Linked DNA regions of Homo sapiens. The protein of the gene in region 1 purifies or fractionates together with the protein of each later gene. This does not show direct contact. Each region holds a gene or a part of one and is shown on either strand. Other genes may lie near its edges. The genes, in order: FN3KRP, DOHH and UBE3C.

Region 1 (3,746 bases):
ATGGAGTTAAAATGTCCAAACGGTCAAGGCCACAGATTAAAACAGGGACATCCGCAGGCCCTGGCCCGAGGGGAGGAGCATACAGGGAGTGGTTCACCCACTCCACCGCCTTTGGAGCACCTTTTAATTCTCTCACTCTTCTCTAATGTGTTCCTTGATTTATCTATTACCATCTGCGGATTTTCATCTGTTCTTTTTTGCCTTTTTTTTTTTTGAGACGGAGTTTTGCTCTTGTCACCCAGGCTGGAGTGCAATGGCGGGATCTCAGCTCACTGCAACCTCCGCCTCCCGGGTTCAAGCGATTCTCCTGCCTCAGCCTCCCGAGTATCTGGGATTACAAGCGCCCGCCACCACGCCCCGCTAATCTTTTTTGCTTTTTAAAATTATGAAATGCGGTATACACACAGAAAAGTGCGTGAACACACACATATGTACCATTTAATAGATAGTTATAAAATGATCCGCCCGCCTCAGCCTCCCAAAGTGCTGGGATTACAGGCGTGAGCCACCGCTTCCGGCCTCAGGAGAGGATTCGTGTTTGCTTCTCCCAACGTCCAGGGAAGCGACATTTCCTATTTGCTTTAGACTAAAATCTATACTTGAATTTTTTGTTTACTGTAGGTAATATTAACTAGGGTTGCAGTCCGTGGAGGGCCGACTATGCGAACGGTTTCTATGAACCATCCTTTGCTGAAGGCTGAAACCTCTTCGTCCCCTGGGAGAGTTCCTATTCAGGCCTTCTTGTAGTTAGTTCATCCTTGTGTTGACAGCTGTATTAGGGTTCTCCAGAGAGACGGATCCAGTAGGATATAGACGTAGATCCAGGACAGGAGATGGACTGGGGGAGCTGGCGTTTGCAATTACGGAGGCCGAGAAGTCTGTGAGCCGGAGACCCCGGGACTCGGGTAGCCGGGCTCAGCCCAGGTCGGAAGGCCTCAGAAGCGGGGAAGCGGATGGTGTGGCCCTCAGCACGACCCACCCCAAATCATGCCTTGCCAGGTTTCTGGGAATTCCTGGTCCAGCCCAGCTGGCACCTGACACTGGCCGTAACGGCAGGGCCACTGTTAGCTGTTAGCCTCAGGGCCCCAGGTTTAGGGGCGGTGTCTCCGTTGCACGTGCACCCCGAGCGCGCCCGCCACTCCCCACATCAGGAGCTCTGTTCCTCGGGTTCAGCAAACGCCCGGGCGAAAGCAATCTTAACATTCTGGGCTCCCGGCACCCAGACCTTGGGCTGATGCCCCTTGCTAGTGGGTCAGCTCTTTAGAAAATATATTCTAACTATTTCCATCAGCATTTCCACTTATTTTGTGCAGGAGAGTTGAACCCAAACCGTCTGGGTCGGGGTCGGTCAGGCCCCGCCCCCTGACGTCATCTCACCCCCACCCAATCCCCCGCGCCTACCTGCCTCCCGGCCCCTCCCCTTCCCGCCCCTCAATCCCAGCGCTCATCTCTGCGGCCACGCCCGCCCCTTCCCGCCACCCAATCCTAGCGCTTGTCTCTGCGGCCGGGCCCCGCCCCCACCCGCCCCCCGCCCAATCCTCGCGCGGACTCATGTTTGCCCGCTCGGCCGCCGTCTCTCGAGTCTCCGCCAGATCCGGGGCGGGTCCGCGGCCGCGGCGGGAACATGGAGGAGCTCCTGAGGCGCGAGCTGGGCTGCAGCTCTGTCAGGGCCACGGGCCACTCGGGGGGCGGGTGCATCAGCCAGGGCCGGAGCTACGACACGGATCAAGGACGAGTGTTCGTGAAAGTGAACCCCAAGGCGGAGGTCAGGCAGCGGGTCGGGCGGGCCGGGGGACCGGTTTCTTTCCGGAGAGGGTCGCGGGCCTCGGCGCGGGGCGCGGCCTGGGCTTCTCCCGCCGGAGGCCGTGGGTGGCTCTCCCGGGACTGCCGCCGCCGCCCCTTGCGGGGAACCCTTTGCGCGGGGCGAGCGGTGAACGGGGGCGGCGGAAGCGTCCGGGGCGTCCGGAGGAGTTTGCACCTGCGGGGAACTGTCCGGAGCAGGAACCGCGGCCGCCCCACACCTCCTGTTCTCCGTGAACTTTCTCTCGGGGGCGCTACGTGAAATGGGGCGGGACTGGCTGCTGCAGTCTTGCTCCCGGGGTTCCTGCCCTGCGGTGCTGGTTAAGTGGGGTCGTTCTAGCCGGGGAAGCTGCTTAAGTCCTCAGCTTAAGTGACTCTGGAGGTGTCCATCCCCCGTGAGCCTCGGTCAGTACGTTGTGAAACGGGGCGAAGGTGCTGCCCCCAGGCCAGCTGCTGCGCCTCACCACACCCTGGCATGCTCTGTCCTTCTGTTAGACTCATTCTCGGGCCGGGCGCGGTGGCTCACGCCTGTAATCCCAGCACTTTGGGAGACAGAGGTGGGTGGAGCGCGAAGTCAGGAGTTCGAGACCAGCCTGGCCAACAAGGTGAAACCCCCGTCTCTATTAAAAATACAAAAATTAGCTGGGCGTGGTGGCGGGCGCCTGTAATCCCAGCTACTCGGGAGGCTGAGGCAGAAGAATCGCTTGAACCCAGGAGGCAGAGGTTGCAGTGAGTCGAGATCGCGCCACTGCACTCCAGCCTGCTGGGTGACTGAATGAGACTCCGTCTCAAAAAAAAAAGAGTGTTCCTAGCAGCGGTGACATGGCAGCTGTGGTGGGGCTCTGAGGCTGAGGAGGTGGGGACTCTGAAGAACTGAAAGAAGGATGAAGACAGCTGGAAGTCAGGAGCACGAGGAGAGTGTGTGTGTCTATGTGTATGTTGTGTGTGTGTACGTTGTATGTGTGTATGTTTGTAATGTTTGTATGTTGTGTGTATGTATTGTGTGTCTGTGTGTGTGTAAGGGTGGAGCCCCAGGTGAGGATGGGAGAGTGGGCAGGGCAGTGGTGTGTGTCTCAGGAGAAAAAGAAAGGCCGCTGGCCCTGACCTGTTCTGCGGGGATCACTGCTGTGTATGTTGTGTGTGTGTGTCTGTGTGTTGTGTGTGTATGGTGTGTCTGTAAGTCGTATGTTGTGTGTGTTGTGTGTCTGTATGTGTTGTGTGTGTGTTGTGTGTCTGTATATGTTGTGTGTGTGTGTTATGTGTCTGTGTGTGTAAGGGTGGAGCCCCAGATGAGGATGGGAGAGCAGGCAGGGCAGTGGTGTGTGTAGCAGGAGGAAAGGAAAGGCCGCTGGCTCTGACTTCTACTCTAGGGATCACTGCTGTGTGGTGAGCCAGGGGGACCCAAGGGAGGAGTTGCTGTGGTCCCGGGGAGTTGGATGGAAACGGCATCTCAAGATGAGGTGGTTTCCAGTGCTGGGCAGGAGGTGGCATGGAACTTGGTGGTCTCTTCAGGTGAAAAGTGACCCCAGGTCACTGGCATAGGCAGCCAGGGTGCCGCCTGCACCTGAGAGGTCGGGTGAGTCTGTGTCCTGTAGGTGGAACAGGACTGCAGTTGAGGTGTCGTCTGAGGACACTGACAGGTAACCCATGTTCACAGTCCCACTGTTGCCGGATCTTAGTGGAATATTAGTGCCTTCGATTTTCCTCTCTCCAGAGAACCTCCCAATTCAACCACAGCACACAAGTGTAGTCCAACACTGGAAAGCTCAAGCCCTCTTCTTCCAGTACAGCCTCTGAACCTGTAGCCTACCCTGTTGGCAAGTGTGTTTGAAAACACTGTCCATGTGTATGGAATCCTCAGTCAGGATAGTCTTGGTTTGAAGTTGTAATGCTAGAGGAAAACATATCTACAGAACCTTCCGGAAGTAACCTTGCCTCCCTGTATT
Region 2 (3,646 bases), on another chromosome or scaffold:
CTTCCCCACAGTGGCAGAGCCCTGGGAGGGGTGTCCTCCGGTCCCAGAGGTAGCCGGGCATTTTCCACACATCCACCCCACCAACATGAGCTCTCCGGCTGCTTCTTCCCAGGGGAGGCCCTGGGGGCCATCGGGGACCCGGAAGTTCTGGAGATCCTGAAGCAGTATTCCTCGGACCCCGTCATCGAGGTAACCAGGCCCCTGCTTGTCTCCCTGCCAGTCTCGGGTCCCTGGGAAGCCCTGCCCAGCCCTGCCCCAGCCCTGACCTGGAGCAGCCTCAGACCCTCCCCATCTCTGGTTGCCAGGGCGACCACTTGGCCAAGGATGCCCCAGGGATGAGGAAGGCGAGGGCGACAATCTGGACAGACACTTGCTGCGCCCCATTTGGCAAAACGGCGACAACCAGCTTTGCTCACCCGCTTCCATCCCGGGCCTTGAGCCCCTGAGCCGGCCTGACCCCCTTTCTCTGAACCCCCACGTCCAGTCCCTCTGCCAAGACCCCTCTGAACCCACCCAGTGCCCTCTACCTCTGATACCTTGTCCTGGCCCACCAGACCTCTTCAGAGATCTCCTGCTACCTTCCAACATTTCTTCTTTTTTTTTTTTGAGACGGTGTCTCGCTCTGTCGCCCAGGCTGGAGTGCAGTGGGCGCGATCTCGGCTCACTGCAAGCTCTGCTTCCCAGGTTCATGCTATTCTCCTGCCTCAGCCTCCAGAGTAGCTGGGACTACAGGCGCCTGCCACCACGCTCAGCAAATCTTTTCGTATTTTTAGTAGAGACGGGGTTTCACCATGTTAGCCAGGATGGTCTCGATCTCCTGACCTCGTGATCCACCCGCCTTGGCCTCCAAAGTGCTGGGATTACAGGCGTGAGCCACCGCGCCTGGCCCAAAAATGAAACAAATTTTTATTTTATTAGTTTTTTCTTTATAGAGATGAAGTCCCGCTCTGTCGCCCAGGCTGGTGTTGAACTCCTGGGCTCAAGCGATCCTCCTGCCTTGGTCTCCCTAACTGCTGGGATTAGGGGCATGAGCCGCTTCGGCCGGCCCGTCATTCCTTTTTGTGGCTGAGTCACGTTCCGTGGTGTGGACGGCCCATGCTGTGTCCACTCACTGTGGCTGGATGCTTGAATTGTCTCTGCTTTTTAGCTGTTATGAGTTATGCCGCCACGGACATGCATGTTCCTTTCTCCCCTGCCACTTCTTGTCCACATCCCACCCCGACCCTCAGTCTCTCCTCCTCCGGGGCAGCCGGGGGTACGTGTGACACTCAATTCTGCTGTTCTGTTCCATGCTTAAAGCTCTCACGATATCTCATCACCTTTAGGACAAAATCCCAAGCCCTTACAGTGGCCCGCAGGCCTTACCTGGTCAGGTGGGGCCGCACATGTTCCTTTGGCCCTCACCCCTCCCGCAGGGTCCTGCCTCAGGGCCTTTCCACCGCTGCTTCCCCATCCCCGGGTCTCCACCTGATTCCCTCCCTAAGCTGGCTTAGGTCTCTGCCTCCACATCACCTCCTCCCTGAGGCCCTCCCCAGCCCTCCAGTCCCCCGGTCACTCACAAGTCAGCCACCCCTGCTGGCTTACTTCCTGCCTGGAATGATGGGTTAGTCACCCTGCCAGTGTCTCTCTCCCCTGCTAAGCTGCCATCCCGGGGGGTGGGGAAGGGCCCCTGCGACCCCCCAGGGCCAACCCGCTGCCTGATACCCCCTCCCCGCAGGTGGCCGAGACCTGCCAGCTGGCCGTGCGCAGGCTGGAGTGGCTGCAGCAGCACGGCGGGGAGCCGGCGGCGGGACCCTACCTCTCCGTGGACCCTGCCCCGCCGGCTGAGGAGCGTGACGTGGGGCGCCTGCGGGAGGCGCTGCTGGATGAGTCCCGGCCGCTCTTCGAGCGATACCGCGCCATGTTCGCCCTGCGCAACGCGGGAGGCGAGGAGGCCGCCCTGGCGCTGGCCGAGGGTGAGGAGGGGCTTCTGGGGTGGGGTCCTGGGCAGTGCCTCGCTGTGAGGTTCAGTGATGGCATCTGTGCAGTGGGGCCGCGGCCTGCCCCCGGGAACGGCATCCCGGGCCTGGCCCCAAGCATTTCCCATGGGGCCTCTTAAGAACCCGTGCAAGCGTCCCTCTTGGTCCCCATAGCTCCCAGCTTTTCCCGCCCCCATAGCTGCGGTCAGTTCCCCCGGGCATCCCTAATCACTGGGGCTGGGGGCAGGGGTGTCTTCAAGGTAGAACACCCCAGGTTGGGCGTGGTGGCTCACGCCTGTCGTCCCAGCACTTTGGGAGGCCGGGATGGGAAGATCGCCAGGACTTTGTGACCTGCCTGGGCAAGATAGCAAGACCCCATGTCTTCGAAAAGACAGAGCTCCCCTTCCCACCCCTCCTGGCCCCAGCGAGTGTCCCTCTCCCCTGCAGGTCTGCACTGTGGGAGCGCCCTCTTCCGCCACGAGGTCGGCTACGTCCTGGGACAGCTGCAGCACGAGGCGGCGGTGCCCCAGCTGGCGGCCGCCCTGGCCCGATGCACCGAGAACCCCATGGTGCGGCACGAGTGCGCGGAGGCCCTGGGCGCCATTGCCCGGCCCGCCTGCCTGGCCGCGCTGCAGGCTCACGCGGACGACCCAGAGCGCGTGGTGCGTGAGAGCTGCGAGGTGGCTCTGGACATGTATGAGCACGAGACCGGGCGGGCCTTCCAGTACGCGGACGGCCTGGAGCAGCTGCGCGGGGCCCCCTCCTAGGGCCCCACCCTCACCCGGAGCTCCCGGAGGACTCTTGAGGGCCGCTCCTCCCCCGCAGAGCTTTGGCGTCTAAACCGGGTGTGTGTAAATCGGTGTCATCGCTTGTGTCTTGCTGGGCGCATGGTTGCTGTCCCCCTCCTCCGTCTGGGACCGAGGAGCTGCCGTTGTGCTGTGACTCCCTGAGTCCCCTGACTGCTCCTCGGGGCCTGGCGCAGGGCTGTAGCGTGGAAGTTTCCAGGCTTGGGGTGGGACTCTGCGGGAGGCTCTGGGATGCCCGGCTCAGGACAGGGGAGGATTGCGAGGGAAGCCAGGGGAGGATCGCGAGGGAAGCCAGGGGAGGATCGCGAGGGAAGCCAGGGGAGGATCGCGAGGGAAGCCAGGGGAGGATCGCGAGGGAAGCCAAGGGAGGATCGCGAGGGGAGCCAGGGGAGGATCGCGAGGGAAGCCAGGGGCAGAGCTGGGGCTCTGGGAAGAGGCTGACGTTATGGTGGCTTCAGCTTCACTAGGAATGGGACACAGGGTCTGGGGGCCTCTGACTCCCCCACCCCGAGGCCTGGGTAGGGACAGGGTGGTGGTCCCTGAGTGGGTCAGGTAGGGCACAGGGGCCAGGGAGGGACAAGCAGACCTCAGAGCGCTGCCCAGATGGAATATTAAATTATTTTTGCCAAGCACTGACTCCTCTGAGTGTGTTGGGTGAGGGGAGCGTGGGAGGGAGGGAGGGGTGGGGGCTTTCAGGGAACGTTCCCCGAGAGTGTGTGGCGTCTGGGCGGGGAGACGGTTGTATCCGCAGCCATTGGCTCTAGGATCTGTCCTGCTGCTGACACTGAGCCACCACCAGCGACAGGCAGGCCTGCACCTGTTTTATGTGCGGTTACCTGGTCAGATCTGCCCAGCCAGCTCCCTCCAAGTGGGCTCTGGGGA
Region 3 (3,646 bases), on another chromosome or scaffold:
AGTAGGTGCTGGTGTTGGCTGTTTGATAAATAATCTCAAAACAGTCTACAGTAGTATTCTGAAAACCTGTTAAAGCAAGAATCCGTTCTTAAAAGCTCTTTGCAAGGGTGGGGGACATTGGACGAGGAGGAGGAGTGGTTCCCACAGGCACGCAATTTGAAAACCCTTGTTCTCAAGATCTAGACAGAGGTTAGGGATTGCCTCGGGTCTCACTGATGGTCAGTAATTCACCTAGCTCCCCTGAGTTATGTGTGAATCAGTGTCTTTTCCATTACAGTAAGTTGCAGACTTTATTTGCACATAAGTCTTTGAGACTGACCTGTTTTCAGAGGAATATTTGAGTCAGTGTTTATAGCAGAAAGAATGGTCAGCAGAGAACTAAGAGACCTGTGTCTCGTTTGTGCCCTGTCTGCAGGGCAGCATTGGCACATATCCTTGCCAATCCCAGTTTTTGTCATTAAAGTAAAAATGATGCATTCCTTTTGCTTGTTTCACAGGGGGTTTGAAGAGGACAAATAAGTTTTTGTTGGTTAATTACCCTGTCCCTTTTTTTTTTGGACCCAATATAAGAATTTTATGCATCCTGCAATATGTGTGCATAACTGATGATGTGTTGGTGGTGATGATTCTTGTCAGGGATAACAGTACAAGTACAAGGATTCTTGTCGGGGATAACAGTGGAAAGCAGGCTCATCAAGACGCAGGAGTGGGCTCCAGCTGTCATAGGCAGGGCTGTTGAAAGAAGCCACCCCTGTCCAGTTAAGGCAGCCCTGTGCCTTTTTTATCCTCCATATAAACAACCTTTTTGTGTCATCCTGGCTTTGGCAATGAGGTAGGACAATTGTGCTTTGTCCCTTTTTGAATGTCCCACAATGTTTAAATTTTGGAAGAATGGCATTCATTCATTGATGAATCTGTTCAGCATAGTGCTAAATGCAGAGTATCACAACTGCAAACATGGATCATGTATGCTCAGGTTGTGTAGCATGTGGACATAGTGTATCTTCTCTGTGGGAACACAGTTTCAGGTGCACATATGGGTTCCTTTTCTCAAAGCGGTTGATGATGGCAGTGCCCTCCCCTGAACCATGCACCATGGAGACTCAGAAGCTCCAGGTGGCTCAGCCAAGCTCCTTACGGCCCCGCTAATTAGAACAAGTGGCCTTACCTTCTGCTTTGCTTTCATACATGATTTGTAGATCCTGACTCCTGGTTACATCTCATCTAATATATACCTGTAGTTTTGTGGAAATGGATATTTGGGGAGATAAGAGAGTGATCTTGCTCACAGTGTCTGTTAACCTGTGATTGATTTGACTTGGTAGAGGGGACCATGGACTTTATAGAAAGAGCTTGCAGGTGAGCCTATTAGCTAAAAGTTCCATAAGACAAGGAACCAGACTTAAAAACGAGAGAAAAGGAAGAAGTTCTAGGTGAAATAAGTCAATTTAATATATCGTAGCTCTTTTTTATTTATTTATTTTTTTTGGAAACGGAGTCTCGCCCTGTTGCCCAGGCTGGAGTGCAATGGCACGATCTCGGCTCACTGCAACCTCCGCTGCTCGGGTTCAAGTGATTCCCCTGCCTCAGCCTCCCAAGTAGCTGGGATTACAGGCACGTGCCACCACACCCAGCTAATTTTTTGTATCTTTAGTAGAGATGGGGTTTCACCATGTTGGCCAGGCTGGTCTCGAACTCTTGACCTTGTGATCCACCCACCTCGGCCTCCCAGAGTGCTGGGATTACAGGCGTGAGCCACCATACCCAGCCTTTTTTCTTTTCTTTTTTTTTTTCCTTAATATTTTAAACTTCTTTGAAACAGAGTCTGGCTCTGTTCCCCAGGCTGGAGTGCAGTGGCGCAATCTCAGCTCATGGCAACCTCTGCCTCCTGGGCTCAAGCCATTCTCCTGCCTCAGCCTCCTATGTAACTAGGAAGGACTACAGGCACCTATCACCACACCTGGCTAATTAATTTAATATATCATAGCTCTTGATGGGTGAAAGGCTGCTGAGTAAAGACCACCTTAGCTGCTGTGAAAGCAGGAGCAGGATGGGAGCTGGTGAATAAAGTGGACAGTGGGAGCAAGGCCACCATAGAGAACTGGAAACTTTGTTTCTTGAGGTTCCAGTTTGGCTTCAATATTGAATAGCTTTCAACGTTACCAAAAGTTAAGTCGCTGGATAAATTTTTCCTGAGACCAGAATGATTTGCCTTTATTAAATATGTTGAGTAGAAGGGAAGGGGGATGGTTTCCTCATAAGAGTAAAGTACATGTGTGTCTTGAATAGTGGCCTTATTAGAGCTCTTCTTAGGGCCTTAGTCTGGGAACGACTGGCTTACTCTTAGTAACTTCATTATCTAGTTGGTACAGGTAGCAGAAACCTTAGTGAAGATTAATGGGTTGGTATGCTATTTTTTGTATTAATCTATGCTGTTTATTAACCTGCATTGCCATGGTGACTTTACCTTGCCTTTAAATAGTTTAATTCCTAATGCAAATGTTACTTTCCCTGATTATATTTGTTTGATGTTATGTTTTAATTAGTTCCCAAACTAAGACTAATTTTAAAGTGACTGGTTTTTTTCTTCTTTTCTTTAATTCAAGGTCTATGGTACCGTTGCTTCAGGTGATATCCAGGGGTTCTCCTATGTCTTTTGAAGATTCTAGTCGAATCATCCCACTCTTTTATCTTTTTAGCTCCTTGTTTAGTCATTCACTAATTTCCATACATGATAACGAATTCTTCGGTGATCCCATAGAAGGTAAGGATTTTGAGAAACCAGTTTGCTGCTGGCCACTTGGCCCATCAGTTTTCATAGACAGTAGAAAAGTTTTAAGCTTTTTAAGTCTTTCAGTGTGTGTTAAAAGATGGAAAAAGAAACAATAGAAAACTGGATTGTGTTTTTTAGTTGTAGGTCAAAGACAATCATCAATGATGCCTTTTACTTTAGAAGAGCTGATAATGTTGTCTCGATGCCTTCGAGATGCATGCCTGGGGATCATCAAGTTGGCTTATCCAGAAACCAAGCCAGAAGTTCGAGAAGAATATATTACAGCATTTCAGAGTATTGGAGTTACTACTAGCTCTGAAATGCAACAATGCATACAGATGGAACAGAAAAGATGGATTCAGTTATTTAAGGTATAGAGTATATGTATTTTTTTGTTTACTGACATTGAAAAATGTACAAACTTTTGTCTTGACTCGTTGCAGAGGAATAAAAATGCAGGTTTGTTTCAGACATGTTTTAATTTGCAAGACTTTTTTTTTTTTTTTTTTTTTTTTTTTTTTTTTTTTTGATACATGGACTTGATGTGTCTCCCAGGCTGGAGTGCAATGACACCATCATACTCCACTGCAGCCTTGAACTCCTGGGATCAAGCAATCCTCTCACCTCAGCCTCCTGAGTAGCTGGGGCTACTGGCACATGCCACCACACCCAGCTAATTTATTAGTTTTTTTGTAGAGACAGAGTCTCACTGTGTTACCCAGGCTGGTCTCAAATTCCTGGCCTCATGGATTCCTCCTGCTTCTGCCTCCCATAGTGCTGGGATTATAGGCGTGAGCCACTGCAGCTGGCCTATATACCTTTTTAATTAAGAAAAGTAATTTTAGTACTTTTGATTAATTAAGGTAATTTAAT

The links.
Region 2: the proteins of FN3KRP (region 1) and DOHH purify together in Homo sapiens (affinity purification with mass spectrometry; 2 studies listed by BioGRID and IntAct, with this or other methods). This does not show direct contact.
Region 3: the proteins of FN3KRP (region 1) and UBE3C purify together in Homo sapiens (affinity purification with mass spectrometry; one large-scale study listed by BioGRID and IntAct). This does not show direct contact.

Annotation. Positions count from the first base shown.
Region 1 is NC_000017.11:82,715,132-82,718,877, forward strand, and holds the start of FN3KRP (ketosamine-3-kinase), read left to right. Parts: upstream 1-1,574; 5' UTR 1,575-1,624; coding exon 1,625-1,765; intron 1,766-3,312; exon of another isoform or gene 3,313-3,440; intron 3,441-3,746.
Region 2 is NC_000019.10:3,490,571-3,494,216, reverse strand, and holds the end of DOHH (deoxyhypusine hydroxylase), read left to right. Parts: intron 1-112; coding exon 113-189; intron 190-305; coding exon of another isoform or gene 306-446; exon of another isoform or gene 447-1,702; intron 1,703-1,717; coding exon 1,718-1,955; intron 1,956-2,405; coding exon 2,406-2,725; 3' UTR 2,726-3,393; downstream 3,394-3,646. UniProt on the Homo sapiens protein: Catalyzes the hydroxylation of the N(6)-(4-aminobutyl)-L-lysine intermediate produced by deoxyhypusine synthase/DHPS on a critical lysine of the eukaryotic translation initiation factor 5A/eIF-5A.
Region 3 is NC_000007.14:157,204,792-157,208,437, forward strand, and holds part of UBE3C (ubiquitin-protein ligase E3C), read left to right. Parts: intron 1-2,606; coding exon 2,607-2,764; intron 2,765-2,911; coding exon 2,912-3,144; intron 3,145-3,646. UniProt on the Homo sapiens protein: E3 ubiquitin-protein ligase that specifically catalyzes 'Lys-29'- and 'Lys-48'-linked polyubiquitin chains.